Regions from separate parts of the Homo sapiens genome. Here region 2 is linked to region 1. Evidence: fine-mapped expression QTL. A gene starts in region 1. The other region holds a variant in brackets. All regions are shown on one strand. Distances are from middle to middle. Region 1 holds the start of FAM174A (family with sequence similarity 174 member A). Region 2 has its middle 89 kb from the start of MIR548P.

Evidence for each region.
Region 2: its variant is fine-mapped to the expression of FAM174A in whole blood (INTERVAL, PIP 0.97).

The regions. Positions count from the first base shown.
Region 1 is chr5:100,528,586-100,540,204 of GRCh38, forward strand. It overlaps FAM174A (family with sequence similarity 174 member A), which reads left to right and starts at 6,789. Exons shown (of 3, transcript NM_198507.3): 1 at 6,789-7,379. The coding sequence starts at 6,946. FAM174A-DT (FAM174A divergent transcript) reads right to left here and starts at 6,658. Exons shown (of 5, transcript NR_172939.1): 1 at 6,576-6,658; 2 at 5,495-5,567. RefSeq lists an enhancer at 6,748-7,047.
Region 2 is chr5:100,721,277-100,732,895 of GRCh38, forward strand. No RefSeq gene overlaps it. Among named protein-coding and RNA genes, the nearest start is that of MIR548P, 89 kb to the right of the region's middle. RefSeq lists an enhancer at 1,199-1,842. The variant A/ACATG (reference allele first, on the strand shown) is at 5,148.

The DNA.
Region 1 (11,619 bases):
GGTTTGCTGCACAAATCATCCCATCACCTAGATATTAAGCCCAGCATCCATTAGCTATTCTTCCTGATGCTCTTCCTCCCCACAACACCGCCCCTCCCACAGGCCCCAGTATGTGTTATTCCCCCCATGTGTCCGCGTGTTCTCATCATTCAGCTCCCACTTATAAGTGAGAACATGTGGTGTTTCCTTTTCTGTTCCTGCACTAGTTTGCTAAGGATGATGTCGTCCAGCTCCATCCGTGTCCCTGCAAAGGACATGATATGTTTTCTTGTTATGGCTGCATACTATTCCATGGTATATATGTACCGTATTTTCTTTATCCAGTCTATCATTGGTGGGCATTTAGGATGATTCCATTTCTTTGCTATTGTGAATAGTCCTGCAATGAACACACACATGCATGTATCCTTACAATAAGAATGATTTATATTCTTTTGAGTATATACCCAGTAATGGGAATGCTGAGTCAAATGATATTTCTGCCTGTAGGTCTCTGAGGAATCATAATACTGTCTTCCACAATGGTTGAACTAATTTACACTCCCACAAACAGTGTAAAAGTATTGCTTTTACACTGTTCCTTTTACACAGAAATAAAAGAATACCCTTTCTTTCTCTTGCCTGATTGCCCTGTCCAGAACTTCCAATACTCTGCAACCTCATTGGCATGTTTTTTTGACTTTTTAGTAACAGCCATTTTTACTGGCATGAGTTGGTATCTCATTGTGGTTTTGATTTGCATTTCTCTGATGATCAGTGATGTTGAGCTTTTTTTATATGACTGTTGGCCACAGGTATGTCTTATGAGAGTCTGTTTATGTCCTTTGTCCACTTTTTAATGGGGTTATTTTTTCTTGTAAACTTAAGTTCCTTGCAGACTCTGTGTATTAGACCTTTGTCAGATGGACAGATTGCAAAAATTTTCTCCCATTCTATAGGCTGTCTGTTCACTCTGATGATAGTTTCTTTTGCTGTGCAGAAGCTCTTTAGCTTAATTAGATCTCATTTCTCAATTTTTGCTTTGGTTGCAATTGCTTTTGGCATTTTCATCATGAAATGTTTGCCCGTGCCTTTGTCCTTACTGGTACTGCCTAGATTTTCTTCTCAGGTTTGCATAGTATTGTTTTACATTTAAGTCTTTAATCAATCTTGAGTTAATTTTTGTACATGGTGTAAGGAAGGGGTCCAGTTTCAATTGTCTGCATATGGCTAGCCACTTCTCCCAGCACCATTTATTAAATAGGACATTTTTTCCCCATTGCTTGTTTTTGTCAGGTTTGCCAAAGATCAAATGGTTATAGGTATGTGACCTTATTTCTGAGTTCTCTATTCTGTTCCATTGCTCTATGCATCTGTTTTTATACCAGTACTACTCTGATTTGGTTACTGTAGCCTTGTAGTATAGTTTGAAGTTGGGCAGTGTGATGCATCCAGCTTTGTTCTTTTTGCTTAGGATTGTTTTGGCTATTCAGGTTCCTTTTCATTCCATATGAATTTTAAAATAGTTTTTTTTTTTTTTACATTCTGTGAAGAATGTCAGTGGTAGTTTAATAGAATTAGTATTGAATCTATACATTACTTTTGGCAGTATGGCCATTTTTGCAATATTGATTCTTCTTATCCATAAGCATGGGATATTTTTCCATTTGTTTGTGTCCTCCCTGATTTGAGCAGTGGTTTTGTTTCTCCTTGAAGAAGTCCTTCCCTTCCCTTGTTAGCTGTATTCTTAGGTATTTTATTCTTTTTGTGGCAATTGTGAATGGAGTTCATTCCTGATTTGGCTGTTAGTGTATAGAAATGCTAACAATTTTTGCATTGATTTTGTATCCTGAGACTTTTCTGAAGTTGCTTATCAGTGTAAGAAGCTTTGGCGCTGAGACTATAGAGCTTTCTAGATACAGAATCATGTGATCTTCAAACAAAGGTAATTTGACTTCCTCTCTTCCTATTTGAATACCCTTTATTTCTTTCTCCTGCCTAATTGCCCTGGCCAGAACTTCCAATACTCTGTTAAATAGGAGTGGTGACAGAAGGCATCCTTGTCTTGTGCTGGCTTTCGAGGGGAATGCTTCCAGCTTTTATCCATTCGGTATGATATTGGCTGTGGGTTTGTTATAAATGGCTATTATTATTTCAAGGCATCTTCCTTCAATATCTAGTTTATTGAGCATTTTTAACATAACGGGATGTTGAATTTTATTAAAGGCCTTTCTACATCTATTGAGATAATCATGTGGTTTTTGCTTTTAGTTCTATTTATGTGATTAATTACATTTATTGATTTGCATATGTTGAACCAACCTTGCATTCCAGAGGTGAAGCCAACTGGATCGTGGTGGATAAGCTTTTTGCTGTGCAGTATTGGTCTATTCTGAGATTCAAGTTCTTCCTGGTTCAGTCTTGGGAGGGTGTATGTGTCTAGAAATTTATCCATTTCTATGAGATTTTCTAGTTTATGTGCATAGACGTGTTTATAGTATTCTCTGATGGTTGTATTTCTGTGGGGTCAGTAGTAATACCCCCTTATCATTTCTGGTTGTGTTTTTTTGATACTTCTCTCTTTTCTTCTTTATTAGTCTAGTCAGCAGTCTATTTTATTACTTTCTTCAGAAAACTAGTTCCTGGATTCATTGATTTGTTTAAGAGCATTTTGTGTCTCTATCTCCTTCAGTTCAGCTCTAATCTTGGTCATTTCTTGTCTTCTGCTAGCTTTAGGATTTGTTTGCTCCTGGCTCCTAGTACTTTTAGTTGAGATGTTAGGTTGTTAACTTGAGATCTTTCTAGCTTTCTGATGTGTTCATTTAGTGCTATGAAGTTCCCTCTTAACACTGCTTTAGCTGAGTCCCAGAGATTCTGGTATGTTGTCTCTTTGTTCTCTTTAGTTTCAAATAACTTCTTGATTGTAGCTTTAATTTCACTATTTCCCCAAGAGTCATTCAGGAGCAGTTTGTTTAATTTCCATGTAGTTGTGTGGTTTTGAGCGAATTTCTTAATCTTGAGTTCTAACTTGAATGCACTGTGGTCTGATAGACTGTTATGATTTAAGTTCCTTTGCATTTGCTGAGGAGTGTTTTACTTCTGATTATTTGATCAATTTTAGAGTAAGTGTCATGTGGCAATGAGAAGAATGTTATGCTCTGTTGTTTTGGGATGGAGAACTCTGTAGATATCTATCAGGTCCACTTGATTCAGAGCTGAGTTCAGGTCCTTAATATCTTTGTTAATTTTACGTCTTGATGATCTGTCTAATATTGTCAATGGGGTGTTAAATTCTCCCACTACTATTGTGTGGGATTCTAAGTCTCTATGTAGGTCTCTAAGAACTTGCTTTGTGAATCTAGCTCCTCCTGTATTGGGTGCTTATATATTTAGCATAGTTAGCTCTTCCTGTTAAACTCTTCACCATCATGTAATGCCCACCTTTGTCTTTTTTGATATACTCTTTTTTAGCACTGTGCTAAATTCTGAGTATTGAGTAGTGAATAAATGAGATTGACCCTTGCTTCATAGAACTTAGGTTCAAGTGGTAAAAATAATCACACTAATTTTGGAATCTTAAGTGTGTGTTATAAATGAAACATACAAGATCTATACTACAAATTTTGTAAACTGCTGTTTTAGGTAGAGTGGACAGGATAGTTTGTCTCTTAGCTGCTTTCAGGGAGCAGGGTAAGGCAGTTGCTTCTGGCTGGCAGAACTGCAAGGATTAGGCATCTTAATGTTGAGTTTCAGTGTAAAGAAGCCCATTTGTGGTACACCCTAGTGTCAGCTTCCAAATGGCATTTATCAGTAATAAAATGCCCTTTTGATTTCCCATCTTCCTTACTCAGAACTTCATTCCACATTATAAATGGAATAGAGTTAGTATTTAATGCCTCTCCCAAAAAATAGAATAGAGTTAGTATTTAATGCCTCCTCCCAAAAAAGTCCAACATTCAACTTGTCAAAAAAAAAAAAAGGAATGACAAAAAAGAAAATGTGCATTATCTTTCCTTCCTTCCAAAATCTGATTTTGTCATGTTCTTCATCTTGATTAATGGCATTATCATTCTCCCAGATGTGCAGGCATAAAACCTTGGTATCATTTGTTACCCCAAATTCCCATCTGCAGCAGTCCTTGGCAATAACTGGGACATGCAAAGAGCTAAATGATTCTGAAATCTTAGAATCAAACTATTGTTTCCAAATGATTAGGAAAGCTATGTTCTAATGTTTCTCAAAATGCAGCTCTCAATTACCCAAAACAGAATAAGAAAGGGAATTTGTTAAAATTGGAGATTCTAGATCACTATTTTAGAAATTCTGGACAGAATTTTTGGAAGTGGAGACATGGACTATATATGCATTTTTAACAAGCTCTCAGAGTGATTTTCATGTACACTGAAATTTAAGAATCTCTTTCCTTTCCCTTACTACCTGCATCCAGATATTGTCATATCCTGTCCATTTCCCTAACTTTTTTCCCATTAATCCAATCCTACAGGCCTCTATAGCCCTAGGACTATATACTAACCTGCTTGGTGCCCAGCACTTTCTACCTTCACTTAAAATGGCTATATTACTGCCAGGATAAACTTTTTAAGTACAGATCTCTCCTGATATAGCAACCAACTAACTAAACAACAACAACAAAAACAAAATCAGATTTTTCAGAGATACTCAATTCTCAACAAAAGTGATCTTAAGCAGGCAACATACCTGGAAGTTACTGTGCTCTTTTTAGAATACCATATTGTTTGTAAAACATCATTATATAATGACATCTTGAAATCTGTCATGGGAATGAACAAAAATTTTCCTAGGAGAAGATACTGTGTTTTGTTTGTGCAATAGAAAGTTACAATTTTGAGCACAAATATCTATGTGAAATACAATCTTTCAAACTAAGTAAAATTAGTTGTTTATGAATTTTTCTCTTAATTTTAATATACTTGTTCATTTACTTGTTATCAATTGGCTTGCAAACAAGTTGTACCAAGCACAGGATATAAAAAAAAAATACATAAATAAGGGGAAAAAATCTCAGAATGAGAAATTTGTATCAGGTTACTGCCACATTATTATATTCTCCTAATTAATACCATGATTTGATTCTAGCTTCTTAATCAACTATTGCTAGAATAATGTGGCATAATCAATAACCATAGAAATATCAGTGGCATACAGCAAATAAGCATTTATTTTTCACTTCTTTGGTCAAGCTGGGGTTGACTAACTTAAGCTAACCTTGGCTGCATTTGGTGCCAGGCTATAGGTTTAGTCATAGTTTACGCCAGATATCCCACAGTCTACTAGGATCAGAGGACTAGCTGGGTCATATTCTTTTCAAGGTTAGGGCCAGAACTTTCTGTGCAGAGAGGGCAGGCAAGTGAAAGGGGGAAAGGAATAATGAGAGAGGTAGGTGTGTGTATGCATGTGTGTGTGTTTCTGGCTCTCTCTCTGTATATATCTACCTGTATCTGTCTCTCTTTTAGCAATGAAAACAATAACTTACTCAAAAGACCCACGTATACCCTTGACAGGCATCTCATTGGTGAGAGGTACATCATGCGGCCACTTCTAGTTATCTGCACAAATTGAAGTTCCATATTACTGAAGTCAAACAGGCAAGGAAGACATTATTGAAGACTACTGCTGTTGGGAAAGGGGATAAAACTCTTCTAATCTCAACTCCTCTAAAAGAAAAAAAGGAGTGGAGAGTTATTAAGAGCTATTTTGGGAAGATCACCGGCCACCTGAGTTTGCTGATTGACTTTACCCAAAGGAAAAGTAAATTTTCTCCTCCATGACAGGAGGTGGTTTTACAACTTGAAGCGAGAAGCCTACAACAGTTAGGTTCCTTTCCTCTCACACAAAATAAGAGATGGCCCACTACCTTCCTTGCTGATTATATTTCAAAGGCATGATGGCTTTCCATACCCTTGAGATAGTTTTCAATTATATAACTGGCCAGAAGCTTTAAAAAATATTTACATCTGAAAAGGGAAGAGAAATAACTTACAATGGTAAAGTTTTCTAAAGTAATTTTTTTTAATATACTTTAAGTTCTAGGGTATATGTGCACAACGTGCAGGTTTGTTACATATGTATACATGTGCCATGTTGCTGTGCTGCACCCATTAACTCGTCATTTACATTAGGTATATCCCCTAATGCTATCCCTCCCCCCTACCCCACGACAGGCCCCGGTGTGTGATGTTCCCCATCCCGTGTCCAAGTGTTCTCATTGTTCAATTCCCACCTATGAGTGAGAACATGCAGTGTTTGGTTTTCTGTCCTTCTAATAGTTTGCTCAGAATGATGGTTTCCAGCTTCATCCATGTGCCTACAAAGGACATGAACTCATTACAAGCAAATGCTCTTTAGAAAGGGAGGTCAGGGACCCATAGGCAGGAAAAAAAGCCTGCTTAAAGCTTGTAATGAAGCTAAGGAAAACTAAGCCCTTCTGGCTTACAGATTAAATGTGTTATTGCAGTTTGACACCAATGAATTCAGATTATGAGTTTCCAATCTCTCAGGGTTCCTGCATGAGAGAGTTGCTGTACATTTTACACAATCTCTTTTTGTCTACTTACTTTCTTAATACGCATCCTTGACCGCTCCTCACTAACAGTGAAAAGAACAATGCTTCCAAAACGGTCACGTCCTCGCTTTTTACACAAGTGCGCGTGCGCACTGGGCGCTAGGCCTCTGACGTCACCAAGTGCATCCGCCCCTACAAGTTAGCAACCGAAGGCGTCCTTAGCAGCAGTGGCCGCTGAGATGTACGAACTTCCGGTTCTCCGGGCAGCTGCCACTGCTGTAGCTTCTGCCACCTGCCACGACCGGGCCTCTCCCTGGCGTTTGGTCACCTCTGCTTCATTCTCCACCGCGCCTATGGTCCCTCTTGGAGCCAGCGTGGCGGGCCTGGCGGCTCCCGGGTGGTGAGAGAGCGGTCCGGGAACGATGAAGGCCTCGCAGTGCTGCTGCTGTCTCAGCCACCTCTTGGCTTCCGTCCTCCTCCTGCTGTTGCTGCCTGAACTAAGCGGGCCCCTGGCAGTCCTGCTGCAGGCAGCCGAGGCCGCGCCAGGTCTTGGGCCTCCTGACCCTAGACCACGGACATTACCGCCGCTGCCACCGGGCCCTACCCCTGCCCAGCAGCCGGGCCGTGGTCTGGCTGAAGCTGCGGGGCCGCGGGGCTCCGAGGGAGGCAATGGCAGCAACCCTGTGGCCGGGCTTGAGACGGACGATCACGGAGGGAAGGCCGGGGAAGGCTCGGTGGGTGGCGGCCTTGCTGTGAGCCCCAACCCTGGCGACAAGCCCATGACCCAGCGGGCCCTGACCGTGTTGATGGTGGTGAGCGGCGCGGTGCTGGTGTACTTCGTGGTCAGGACGGTCAGGTGAGGCAAAGCCTCGGTGGGGCACCCCCGTGGGCCTGAGATACGCAGGCCGGTGATCTCCAGCAAGGCTGACTTCTGTGACCCTTTCCCCCTTCCCCAGCATCAGGGACTCCTGCTTAAGAATATGATATTGACTTTCTTAAAGGCCTGTTACCTTTGGAGCAATTTAAACCTATAACTAATTGCTGCCTTTTGTTTATAAATGAGTGCCCTACCTCCAAATCTCTTCATCTGACCTACAACCCACGTCAGCCTCAAAGGGCACCCTTTCTCTGAAGTGAGGATAATCTTTATTCCCTAGAATTTTGACTACTCTGTCTTGTAATACTTCTACCTTTCTAGTCTAAATTTTTGTATACCTAACTGGTCAAAATTTTGCCAATCAGAATGCAAACTCTTTAAAGACAGGATATCTATTTAGTAGGTTTGTGAGTCTTACAAATTATTTGTACAATGCTGCCACTTAATAGGAAATCAATATATATTTGAGTGGATTAATAGTAATATAGAGGTGCCTTATGGATATTTTATTTTTATAAAATTCAGGAGAAGAAAAGTTCTTCCTTACTATCAGTGTTTCCTAGTATTGCCCTTTAATCTGCCACCTAAGTGGCAGAGAATCACCTTCCTGAAGAGTTGACATACAGAGCCAAGACCTCACCATTAGGAGAAGCCAGCAAAGAGATAAGGTGAGGGAAAGCTGTCTAGCAGTTTATTTCATTATAAAATAAGTGTAGAGGGTAGGTTTGCAGCTTATGTTTGTTTATTGTTTTCAAAATTCACGTTTTTCCCATAAATACCCTCTGTATTGTAATTTAACATATTTCTTTAAACTGATTATTTAAAGCAAAAGTTTCCTTTTAAACAAGTCGTTATTATCATGAATGGAAAACCAACATCACTTGGCTAGTTAAAAAATAGTGTAAGCCAGTGGTTCTTGACATGTGGGCCAGGGAACCACACAGGTGGGAGTTTCACTTAGACCTCTTCAGGGCATCTACAGTATTAAAACTATTTTCAAAATAATACATTCTGTTACAGGCTTATAGGGTACAAGTAGTTCATTGATATTGTTTCAGATTCCACATTGCAACTAATCTTTAAGAAACTGCTTGTCAAGTTTTGGTGTAGTAGTATCATAAAGGAATAACCACTCATATATAAAAAGGCTATTAAAATGTTTCTTTCCATTCCAAGTTTATATCTGTGCGAAGATGGAATTACTTTGTATGCTTCAACCAAACAACACATTGCAAAGGATTTAATGCAGAAGTAAATATAAAAATCTATCCATTTCCTATTTTTTGTTTCTATTTTTTATCTACTCCTATCACCTTAAGCCAGATATTAAAGGGAATTGGAAATAAGAATCTAAATGTCATTCTTTTTACGTTTTTTTCTTTTTTGAAAATATAGTTGTTTTTCATAAAAGTTATGTTAACTTGTAATGTGTTTACTATTATTTTAAATCAGTTGATAAGTATAGGTTTTCTCAAGTTTAATTAATATGGTAAAGTTGATATGTGTAATTCACATAAATATAAGTTATTTTGGGTTCCTGAACAATTTTAAGAATGTAAAGAAATCCAAAACAGCAGGCGTAAGCAATATTTGAGAACCACAGCTGTAAGAAATATTATTTGAGCTAGATATTGTTGGTTCACAAAGGCTAGCAAATCTGCACTCACACTCTAAGTGTTAAAAGCATATTACCACCAAACTGAGACTTTCTTCTTAATATAAAGAAAGATTAAAAGAATATTGAAACAAATTATTTTCCTCACTATATAACTGTTATTTACTGCTGTCTGTACATAGTTCCTATAAAAATGCATGGCCCCTTGAATGTTGTATCTCTTATACATAAAAATGATAAGTATAATGATAATTTGGGGGGAATATTCCTTCCTTGTTTTTTTCCTTTTGCTTCCACCTTTTTAATTATTTTAAATACACATATTTATTACCATTGATTTTCTGTCATTAATGTTGTAAAACTTGGACAGATACAGTCCTTCCAATATGATCCTATTGGATGACTTGGTAACATGATGTGTGTTAACAGCCAAATTCTGAACTATGGCTAATAAAAAGTGCATTCTTTAACCAGCATCTAACATATTCATGCAGTCCAAGTCCTACATTTAGTTGGCTGCCTGGCATCCAAAGCTTGAATGATGCTAACAATGTCTGGGCAGTGTTCCGAACTCATACTTTTTGCTTCCAGATTATGGTTTTCTTCATTATCTTGGTGAATGCTCATTTTGGCTCCCATTTTCAAACTATGTGTGACAGTGCACTGAAATTAGTTATTTGTGCCAAGGGAGAAGAATGGGCCAAAATCATTATTTTCTTAACTGATTTGAGGTGATGCAGAAAATATTTTACTTGTAAAATTTTATTACATTGAACTACATGAGACTTTCAAATAGTTTTGTTTTTATCTAATTCATTTATAATGAATATGTAGGTAATAATAACTTCCTTTTTGAGTCTGGAAACATTCCAAAGAACAGTCAGGTTCTCACTGTAGAAATACAAAACATATATATATATATGTAAGTGTATATATATATATGCAAGGAACACGGTAGGGACAAAGTAGATTGCCTAAAATGAACACTTAATCTCTATGAAAAGAGACTTTTCTGTCTTATTCTCCCCTATATCCTCAGTGCTAAACATCATGTGCAATATATGATGGGCACTGAATAAGCAGTTGCCTAATGGATGAGCACTCTTCATGTATTATATTGCTGAACAGGTAGGTGGTAAGGATTTGGAAATTTAAGGATAATTGCTGTTTACTGACGGAACAAAGAACTGCGAAGATCTCAATTAATACTTTTATTTCCTTCCTCTCAGTAGGACATTCTCTCCACAGTAAAATGTATAAGGCCAGGGAGCGGGGGTGGGGGGAAATCACTGTAGATGGTTGTTGGTTTTAGCACGTATGGTAATTATATAAAGCAATTTTTGTCATAGCTGAATAATGATTCTTGCCTTAAAAGCAGGGAATTATTTCCTTTTTCATGCCATGTCGTTGGTTTTTCGTTTTTTATTCAATTTGGTATATTGGAAGGAAATCGATGCTTAAAAGTTTAACCCTCTACTTTTTTTAAAAAAAATCTCTATGCTCTTTAGCAAGTCTCTTCCAATTTCAAGAAAATATGGTGCTCATGCTCATATAGTGGAGATGAGCATGAAATTTATTATGATAGCCTTTATTTAAGCAGTCAATATTTATTCAACTGACCAGTACTGGGCACTGGGGATACAGTTTTGAGCAAAACAAACATTTCTGCTTCTATAACACTTATATACTAGAGGAGCAGAGGGGCATTAACCAAATAATCACATAGATAAGTACATAAAGGATGCTATGAAAAGGCATTAAAATGCAGATCCTATTAATACATATTATATAGGAAATAAAGAATATTAATTTAATTTGAATGCTTACCCAACCCTATACGCTAAGACACAACGTTAGGTTTTTTCAAAGAACCATACTTTGTAACTGAAAGATTATTTTTGAGCTTTTACTTATCATCCTAATAGCTGATAGTTAATTGATAATTTATGTGTCAGATATAATACCGCATACTTTATGTGCATTTTGAAATTCTTGCAAAAACCTTCAAAGTAGGTAATATCATTCTTACTGAGGAAATTTAGGCTGAGCAAGTTTAAATAACTTGCCCAAGCGTGCACATACAGGACCTGCCCAAACCCAGCTCTGCTGGAACTTACCTAACATGTTCAACCATCATGCTGCTTCCTGTGATCATTTAAAGTAACCAATTTAAAGCGATATTGCACATAAAGATGGCTAGCTTATTTATGGAGAAAAATAAAGTGGATAGTATATGCCCAGTGCCTTTCTGTTTAAAACACATGATTTTGTTGGATGTTAAACCTCCAAATTTTACCTTTTTGAAAAGTGAGTTAACATTTATTGATCATCATATTTGTGCCAAGGTGAAATAATTTTGTTTCCTACCTCAACTCCCTGCATTCCTTCCCTCATCCAAAGATTTTCCTGATTTACTACACATAGTCAGGGAATGGTAATATTTTAAAGAAACGTCTGTTAATATGGTCACACATATTTCCACCTTAGTGGAGCAAGTCACTAATGATTTATGCATGTGACTTTAATCACCATTTCTCTTTTGTCTGGTTACTTAAGAATATGAGTTGTTTTCTTTTTCTCCTAGAAGTCTTGTGGTACCAGCCC
Region 2 (11,619 bases), 190 kb after region 1:
AATAAGTTCAAGGTCTACTGTATAGCATGGTAACCAGTGTTAATGATGATATATTGTATTTTTTAAAATGCTAAGAAAGTGAATGCTAAATGTTCTCACCACAGAACTGATAACTATTTGAGGTAATTAATTTGTTAATTAGATTTCACCATTCCATAATGTATATATACTTCAAAACATCATATTGTACATAATAAATACATATACATTTATACATCAATTTTTTAAAAAAATGATAAATTTCAAAAAAAAAGTCCCTGGTTGAAATATTAATGAATGTGGTGAATTAATATTTAGCTATTGTTTTAAATAACATAGCCCTATCTTATTGTTTAGAAAAAAATATAATAGTTGTATTGGCTGCATACTGTTTTTCATTAACAAACACCCGTGCCAAAATGTCAACGATTTATAGGCTTATATCTCCATTTTGTATATGAGATAAATAGGTCAAGTATTCGAATACCATATAGAATCAAGGTCTTTAGGTTCTTAATTCAACACACCTCTAACTGCAACACAAAGAAAACATTTGTTTGACATTGGTAAATCAAATAGAAATATCCTCACAGAAACACTGAATCTAACCCATTCCATGTCTATCATCTTATCTTCAAGCTATATAGCTGAGGGCAGGGTCAGAAGCTGCCATGCTGTGTTACATGACAGGAATAAATAATGCAGAAAACTTGTTCATTTATTTAACCTTCAACTATTTATAGAAAGCAAATTACAACATGACAGGCACTATTTTGGAATGAAATTTCAGTGCATTGGTAAAGAAGTCTGACTCTGTTTTTAAGATGAGCTTCTTCTTTCATATTTCTCTATTATTACTGTATCAACTGAAAAAGGGTCTATTTTGTTATTCAATTATTCCTGGTATGTGAGCCTAATTCAAAGATTTAGTTAACTAGGAAATCAAAGGGACCATAGAAGGCCTTGAATAATACATGAGTGAGTTTTAGAGTGAAATAAAACTATAAAGGTAGTGTAACATCTTGTCTGAGTTACAGTGATATCAGAGAACACACACAGACACAGACACACACACACAAACATTTTTTGCCTGGGTTTCTTCCCAGGTGAACATACTGTTAAGTCTCTCATATGAAAGACGTAGTTTACCCTAGCTTTTGAAGATTTGAGGCTGCTTTTTGAAGTTGAGGTAGGCACAATCTTTCTGCTTAAAAATTAGAATAGGAGCAAAGTATGGATAAGTATAGCAAGATGTTAAACCAAAATGTCATTTTTCATCTACAAACAGAGAACTTGCTACAACCTTAGCACTCAACCTTCCAAATGATGCCAATTATGTTCACCCACCCTGCTGTGTTCTTAAAAGGAGAAGCACTAGGGGGATCAAAATTAAAACACTTAATTATTTTGTGTTTTAAATGTGAACTCTCTCTAAAAAACAGCAGGTGGATCTTTATCACATCCACTTAAGTCCCTTTGGTCCCTGGACAGTTCCACTAATCATTTGAGTTTAAATACTTTTGAATTGCCTTCATTCACACTACAAATATCTTCACCTTCTCTTGGAAGGGGGCTGCATACTTGGTTACTATTCAACCACTTATCTATTGATGTTACTGCCTGAGAATTAAAGCTCCCTGGAGTTGGCTGATGAGCTTTCACAGAGAGTAAATGTGGCAACAATCCTGCAAATTAGGGCTAAGAGGAAATGGAGGCTAGAATCAGTTTCCAAAGGCATTTCTTAGAATTTGCAGAATTGCCATTATAGGAGGAATTATCTTCAGTAGAGTCAAATTTATACTTAACAACATGAAAAATCTTCTGAAATCTTGATTATCCCAATGTCATTAGCAGAGAATGCCAAGGCATGTAAATAGACTATGATAACTGTAGAGAATCTCCTGACTTAGAAAAACATCCAAATAATTCTGTAGATTTTTAATTTATTTATTTCAATTGTTTTGTATTCTTTTATCTTTTTTTGGTTAAAATCATACAACTTTTTTGTTTTCTGAGCATTTTGACATCTACTTTGTAAGTTCTTTTATACTTATAATAATGCCTTGAGTCAGGAAACAGTAATTATCTCAGTTTTGCAAATAAAGCAAAAGCATAAAAAGTCACCTTGGCCTTCAGATGAGGGCATGCAATTAATTAATGCAGAACTGAAACTAGAACATAGACAACAATTGTTATCCCAGCCCAAGACTTTTCTACTAAAGTGTGTGACTTGTACATTTATTCTATGGTCATCACAAAAATACATATGCAGTGCAAATACATAAAAGTGAATTCTAGTTGCTGAGGTTGGGGGAAGACTCTAATTAGATGATCTGGTAAGAGTTTTATAAGGAAGGAAATTTATTCTGATTAGAAAAAATATAGGTACAAATTGAGACATATTAACCAATTATCATAATTGCCAATAAAATACAGTATGTAGATGAAAGGAATCTAGGTTAGCTGGAAAAATGAGACAAAAGTGGAATGGTGGGGAAGCATGGGAGGCAACGTGCTTCTTCATAACATCAAACTTTCTTTTCCAAATAGTTTCTGACCTTTGTAATTTGTGGTAGTGAAGGGTCAGCAACAAAGCATCAAAGATCACAGCACAAAGGTAAAGTGATTCACCCTGCTTTTTAATCCTTAGCACCGAACTCTAAGATCTTCTAATTAAAGAACCAAGATAGGCATCTACTCGACCCTCACTTTGACATCTTCAAATTTAAAGCAATTCAACTCTCACTCCCACACTCAGGTTAATTTTCACTAGAAGAAATAATGTTGACAGTTTCAGAAAGTCAAGCTAAGCTTATGTAAGGAGAAAAAGAGTAAAATGTTCTTTTTTTACTGATGGATGTGTCCTCCAAGATATGATTTCCCAAGAGTTCTAGGACTTGCTTCCTTGTGCCAGAGCATACTGCACAGTGGGGGTTTCAGGGCACAAGGTTGAAGTCAGAAATGTATACCTAGCCCCCCTCCCAACCCTTATACCACTAATTGGCTCTATGACTTTGGGAAAAGTACTTAAACATCTCTGAGACATGGCTAATTCTTCAATAAAATTGAAATAATAGTAGTACTTAAAATTTAGATTGTTACTGGTAGTGGGCTAAATGATGTCCGTTAAAGAGAATACTCTTGTTTTAATCCCTAGAACCTGTGAATGATATCTTATTTAGGAAAAAGGGGTATTTGCATGTGAAGTTAATTTAAGGATTTTAAGATAAGAAAATTATCCTGGATTAACTGGGTGGGCCTTAAATCTAATATGAGTATCCCTACAAGAGACACACAGAAGAGAGTCATGCAGAAGAGGAGCAAATAATGTGACCATGGAGGCAGAGATTGACGTGATGTGGCCACAAGGGAGGCAACACCTGGAGCCACCATAACATAAAAGAGGTCAGGAATGGATTCTCTCTTCAAGCCTTCAGAGGGAGTATGGCCCTACTGACACCTTGGTATTGGACTCCTGGCTTCCAGAATTATGAAACAATAACTTCGTGTTTTAAGCCAAGTTTGTGGTAACTTAATATAGCAACCAGAGGAAAGTAATACATCATTCAATGAGATAATTGTGAAGAATATACTTAATACATGGTCTAGAACATAGATGTTATTGATAAATAGAATTTATTATTTATACAAAACCTGAGCAGTGTGAGACCTAGAACCAGTGCTAAAGGATATTTGTACTCAGAGAATGGGTTTCCATTTATCGATTAGTTTCTATGAGCCAATTATTCTACTGGGTGTTATGCATGCATTATATAGTTTCTCCTTCTAGTTATAACAAAAGTAAACACTGATTTCTCTTAACAGACATGGAGACTGCAACTCAAAATATAAAATCACTTACTCAAGACCTTATAATTAGTAAGATAATCAAGATTCAAACTCAGATCTGTCTGTAGGAAATGTATTTACTTTCTTTTTTTCATGCTGCCTCTACAAGGTACGGTGTACAGAAGTGGTCAGTGGGTTATAGGGGAAGGCTAAGCCGCAGCCAGCAGTTCTGTGTAATAGTTTATCAATTTTAAGGGTCTTGGCACAGTGAAAAAATCAAGAAATGAAGCAATGGAATAGATAAAAGTAAGAGAATTAGAATGATGTAATAAAAGAAAATTGGAAACATTTTCTAAACAAATGACAATATTGGTAATTGGAGGAATAATCAGTTATTAAAATAGCTTGGACACCACGGCAGGCAGAATTGTAAAGTGAGCCTCAAGATTCAGCTTCTTGTGGCATATGCCCATGCCCCGTATAATGACACTCTGGAGTATGGTGAAAACTGTGAATATGATACGATGTTACTCCTGTGATATATAGGGCAAAGATAAATAGATTTTGCAGATGAAATTCAGGTTGATTTTTAGTTCAATGAGATCAGCTGATTTTTGATTAAGCAAAAGAAAGATCATTCTTGGTGGGCCTAATTATTCAAATTAATGCCCTTAAATGAGCAACTGCGCCCTTCTTGAGATTGGAGTGATTCTCCTCCTGGTCTTGAAAGGGCCACATGGCACAGAATTGCAGGTGACTTCTGTGAGCTAAGAGTCACCCCAGCCAAAATCCAGCTAGAAAACAGCCACCTGAATCTTACAATGCTAAGGAAATACATTTTATCAACAACCTGAATAAACGTGGAAGCAAATTCTTCCCTAATGAAGCTTATTGATGTCAAAGCAGCCTGGTAGAGATCCTGAATGCAGCCTTGTGAAACCCTGAGCAGAGAACCCAGCTAAGCTGTGCCTGGACTCCTGAGGCACAGAAACAGTTATATAATAAGTGTGTGCTGTTTTAAGACACCAAATGTGGTAATTTGTAACACAGCAATAGAAAACAAATACAGACAAAACAAATACTCTCAAAATCAATTTTTTATTTAAATCTATAATTTCTATGAGAGAAATCAGCACTGTGCTACAAACTAGTCTACATCTTGCAGGGTTTACCAGTAGTTATGGACACTTACGTTTTTCTACTCTCTGCTTTATTCTCAGAAATATTCATACCCTGACTTCATACAGTCACCATACTTCCTTTCACCCACTGTATATGTCTTTAGCACCTTCGCCTACAAGCTGAGAAATCTGGAAGCCACCTTTACACATAGTTGCATGAGCACACACATATGTGTGTGCAGATAAACACATATGGGC[A/ACATG]CATGCATGTACACACACACAGAATTTAGCAATGCACACTACATAAACACAAACTATCATTCCTGTCTGATAGCACATAATATGCCTCTTTTTTTTAACCTTTATAAAAGCTATCTTATTCCTTATCTAATTCCTTTTTCTCTTTAGTACTTAAAATACACTTATGGCCCAATATACCTCTGTAGTTACATAGTAATGTACTTTTAACAATTTTATCACATCATAAACTAGCATAGTGACAGTACTTTAATGTTCAACTGCTGCATTATTAATAGAAGAGGTTTTGCCTTTCCAGAAACATCCTGAATTTGTTGTGTTCCATAGTCATTATAGCCCAATAAATATGATGTGGGTCAGATTGGAAATGCAAAGAATTTGGTGAACTCTGAATGTATTAGGTGCACTTTGAACCATTTACTGCCACAAACACAATGATGCTATTTCAAAAGAAGCATATTAGAGATTGAAAGCAACTCTTCTTAGTACTATAAATGGTTACCCTGTATTGCAGTAAAAATAACAGATTTATTGGCAAAACTTCTACCTTGTTAATTTTATATTTCAATTTTCCAAGCTCCGGTAGCTGAATATAGATTGATATAGCTTAAGCTTAGACTAATGATTAAAAGTTCAGCATGTAAATGCAATCCAGATAGTTTATTTATGACTCAGACATATTAATTTGTCAAGTTGGGTTCAAAATGCTTCTCTATCTGGATCAACTTAATATTTCCATATATCTTTATATAATAGGCTTAAATATTGCTGAATAAAGATGACAGCTTAATTTTGATTTGCAAAAATATTTTACACAAGTAATTTACAAAGTATGAAACAAAAATACATAAATAATATGAATAAAATAATGCAAATAAACTAATAGTACAAAAATCCTCTAATTAATACATAAAGGAGTATTTAGTCATCCTATCAACAAATATAAAATTCAAGTGAGAATATGTAAGCCATCATTTATTTACTATCAAGTTAGCACATATTTTAAGAATTATAATAATCAGTTTTAATATAGAAATGATGAAATAGGCAACCTGTCTAGCAAGTATGTATCAAAATATTTCAAGATCCTGGAAAATATGTAAACTTTTGACCCAGGTATTTCAATTTTTAACTGTAATAATAATTTCCAGAAGATGTTGCAGCAAAGTTATAAAATGATATAGACAAAGAATATATGGGCAAGGCAAATCTATGCCCAGTTTAGAAAAATAATCTCTTTGATTAAATAGGGCATAATTCAATATATACTACGTTATTCTTAACAAAGACAATCAGTGGACATATATAGCTATGTATATATTCAAATATGAACATGAGAATATTTTGCTTTATGATTTTATGGTTATTTCAATTCCACATTGTTATTTTTATTAACATTTGTCTTTATTTTGTGTAAGTAGAAATATAATGTATGTTAGCTGTAAAAAATATTGAAAATACAGCATCAGAGAGAAAATGTACCAAAGAAAAGATAAAACCTTCTGTTTTAATTTTAAGTTAACTTTGCACTATGAAATATATATATGTACATACATATATATACATGTATATATGTACGTACATGTATATACATATATATGCACATGAAAATGTATATAAATACATACATATATCTACATGTAATTGTATTTAATTTTAAGTTAACTTCGCACTATGAAATATATATGTATGTACATATATACATGTATATATGTACATACATATATAAATATAAGGATAATGTATTATATATAATATAAAATTATGTACATATATGTATATACATATATATGCACATGAAAATGTATATATGTACATACATATATGTACATGTAATTATATTTAATTTTAAGTTAACTTCACACTGAAATATATATGTATACACATATATACATGTATATGTGTATACATATATAAATATAAATATTATATATATAATATAAAATTATGTACATAATACATATACATGTATATATATATTTCATAGCGCAGTTAACTTAAAATTAAATATAATTATATATAATTGTATATACTTTTATATATAATTTTATATAAATATATAAATTATATATAAATTTTATATAAATATATTCTATATATTATATATTATATTATATATAATATTTATATATGTATATACATATATACATGTATGTATGTACATACATATATATTTCATAGTGTGAAGTTAACCTAAAATTAAATATAATTATACATAATTTTTTATTATATAATATTTATATTTATATATTATATATAATATATATTTATATGTTTATATATAATAATATATATTTATATGTTTATATATAATAATATATATTTATATATTATTTATAATATATTATATACAATTATATATATAATTTTAACAGTTTTATATAAATAATATAATATATAGAATTAAATATATATAATTTTTATGTAAAAAATTATATATATAATTTATATATTTTTTATATATAAAAATTATATATATATAATTTCCTACCCATTTGGAAATATTTTATTTGGAATTCTGACATTGGATTTGTTACATGAAAATGACTTTTGGATTTTTCTAAGTGGTATCTTATACAGTCTGTTTAGATAGATAACATTTTGAAATTTTCCTACATCTTGGTCTGCTTAGGTAGACATTTGACTGATACATGAATATAGACATTTTTATCTATGATTTTGTTACTGAGCTTTCTTCAAACTGTTTAAATAGTTTGGTGGTAGATTGAAAGTAGAATGAGACCTCATGTGCATGTTTGTCTCCAGAACCCTCGCCAGAGCATATTTAGGGGAAATAATATTTTTTAGGAATTTTAGCTTCTTCTATTGTTTATTCTATCTGTAAATTTGACTTATCTGAAAATAAATTGAGAATTTAATCCAAAACAGACTTTAATGGAGGTTTTCAGTGTGAGATTTGTCTTCCTCACTCCTTTTCTTCTTTTTCCTTCATTATCCCTGTTTCTCCTCTCTGCATTTCTCTCCCTCCCTCTTCCTTTTGCATGCATTCAACTACTTATAGTAAACATACACCACGCACCAAGTATTGTGATAGGAACAAGGGGTATAAATATGAGCAAGGCAGTTTTGATCTGTCCTGCCAAAGCTTAGAATGTTTGATTTTAAAACAAGCATTTACATTAAAGTGTGGTAAGTGATACAATAAAGAAAGAACAGAATGTTGAGGAAATACCTAGTAGTGTCTCTTAATACAGTTGAAAGTAAGGAATATTACTCAAGGAACAATGTCTACAAAAAGTGATATTACGGCTAAAAGTTAAAGAATCATTACAAGTTAGGCAGACAGTATTACTACTCTACAGGAATGGAGTCAGTTGCTTATCTAGGTTTTTACCCCATTATATTGTTGGCTCCTTTTTGCATGCTCAGTACCTACCAAAGTATCTGGCACACAGATGTTGTTGAATAAATGTTTGATTAATTAATGCAGAAATATAAAAATGAATACTATCTTGATAAAGCACTATTTGATATATTTGTTTGTAAGTGACACAATGAAGAAAACAACATGGATTTCCAGAAAAATTAATACATCATCTAAATTCCAACTGCTAATCTTAGGTTCTCCATTTTCTACTGTTTTGTTGTTTCTTCTCTTTTTTTAATTTTTAATATTTTATCCCTATTATTGGACCCAAATCAGCATACATTTGATTTTAAACTTGACTTAACATAATTTATTAAAACTTCAATACTTCTTCAAATTTGAATGACTTATTTTATGTATAATTATGTAAAACTACAAACTTGTAAAATCTTCTGAGTTAACACTGGCCATTTACTTTTGCCTATAGAGAAATTAGTCCAGTAAAAGTCAACAGCAGCATATAAAGAAATTGCCAAAATGCTTGAGTATTAAATAACTACCTTGGGTATTGCTTAAGAAAAACCTGCATTCTCAATTCAGCATGCATATGGAATATATGCAAATTTATCTTGTTTTCTGTAGAGACCATTTAACTAAAGAAGAATGAAAATAATTTAAAAACTTACTCAAAATTCATCTGGTAATATGAGCATATAATACATATGAAGTCATTAGACTAATAAATTCATAAGTAAAAAATAATAAGTAAGCTAGAAAACAACAATGCTAATTGATATAAAACACCAAGGCAACAGAGTATTTAAAATGTCATTCAAAGTTGTTGGAATGTGGTTAAGAAAATGAGCTTCAAGATCTAATTAAGAACTAAGCCCAACATGATCCCATAAGTATTTTTATGCTTGAGATGAATATTGGAAATTTGTTTATATTAGTTCAAATTGGTCTAGTATCTCATTTCCTTGTTATTGCATATTCTCAATTATCTGAGAGCTTAAATGTAGGAAAAGGAACGGTGAAACCCCGTCTCTAATGAAAATACAAAAAATTAGCCGGGCGTGGTGGGGGGCACCTGTAGTCCCAGCTACTTGGGAGGCTGAGGCAGGAGAATGGCATGAACCCGGGAGGCGGAGGTTGCAGTGAGCCGAGATCGCCCCACTGCACTCCAGCCTGGGCGACAGAGAGAGACTCTGTCTCAAAAAAAACAAAAAACAAAAAACAAAAAACAAAGGTGGAAAAAGGACATAATTTAATCAATACTTTCAAACATATCTTCCAAACCAAGTTAATTATGGAAAACTTCAGAGGCAAATATCTATGCTTTCTATCAAACTTTGAAAAGAAGGAATCTAGTTTGCTTCAAAAAACAGAACTGTATTTTGCTGAATAAACCAAGTTATTTTCAGGAAACAGAATATGTAACACTCACAAACACTGAAACACACACAAGAAGTGGCACGTCATATTTTAGAAAATTAAAATATGTACAAAATTAGTCTTTTGTAAAAATTAGCTCCTTGATAAAACTTGGAATTTTCAGGAAGGGTTTTTAGAATTTCAATATTTACTTGCTTTAATTCTTGTGCTCTTGTCATTTAAATAGGATAGTGAACTATAAAAGTTCAACTTAAGAACACAAATTAATACCTTACCAAAAAATAGTATATTAACTATTATCCTCATATAAATTAGATATCCTCGTTTAAATCAACTATCTTCACATTCTCATCTAATTTGTATTATTTGATAAAATTTATAGAACATGATAACCTAAATAAAAATGCAAAGGGGAAAAAGATACATAGAGGTATATTATAATTTATGAAAAAGTCGATAACACTTTTTTAACCTAAAATATACTCAAGTTGAATTATCCTTGCCACTCTGTGGCAGAATATATAGTGTAGAAGAAACAGTGCAGAAAAAGGAGATCATGAAAACAGATGTTGGAAGGGTAAATTGGAATAATCTTCCAGATCATTCACTATCAAATATATTTTCAGAGCTTCTCTCTAAAGGAAATAGACATGGGATCATATTCTCCAAGTACATGAATGTATCCATTATAGGAACACGGACTCCTAGCACAGCCACCCTAGAATGGAGAGTCAAGTAGTCCCGTGGTTTAGAATTTGTGCACTGATGGGAGAAGACAGGGACAGGAAGAAGAAAGAGCAGCCTTTCTAACTGATCTGGCTGCTATGTGGTCCAACCGTGTTTAAACAGAAAGTGCAAGGTAAACAAGATTTTTGTGGTTTCACTTTGATGGAGGAGTACCTCTCTTCTATTTCTGCTAAAATTCTCAATCTCTGTCGAGTAGAAAATCACCGGTTTCTGTGGAAGTAGTTAAAAATGCACGAAGGTGCTGAACACACAAACAAGCAAAAATAACAGAATATCACAATACTCTTAAATACAAAATAACTGTATTTCTACACACTATCAATAGAAGTTGAAATGTTAAAAATACCATTTAAAGTAACATGAAAATTATGAAATATGTAAAATACATATTTTTAAAGATGTAAGATGACTACATGTTGAAAACCATCAAAAATAGCTGAGAAAAAATGTTAAAGACCTGCATAAATGGAGAAGTACATTATGTTCACAGGTTGAAGATTCAGTATTGTTAAGCTATCAGTTGCTCTCAAATAGAACCATAGATTCAATACACAATCCCAAGTGAAAAAAGCAGCAGTTTTCTAGTATAAATTTATAAGATTGTCCTAAAATTTATACAAAAATTCAAAGAACCTACAATTACCAAAAGAGAGTTTGAAAAAGAGGAGTTAAATTGGAAGATGAACACTGACTGATTTTAGGAATTATTATAAAAGTACAATAAACAAGACAGTTTGGCATTGAGATAATGAATAAAAACTTGACTATTGGAACAAAATACAAAATCCAGAAAAAGAACCAAGAAATTGACAACTTCTTTTCAACAAAATTACAAAGACAATTTAGTGAAAAAAAGATAGTCTTTCAGTAAATGTTACTGAAACCATTGGAAATCCTTAAGTTAAAATAACCTGACTTAAATCCATAACTCATACCATATACAAACATTAACTCAAAGTGTGTTATAAACTTGAAGATAAAACTTACAATTGTAAGACTTCTAGA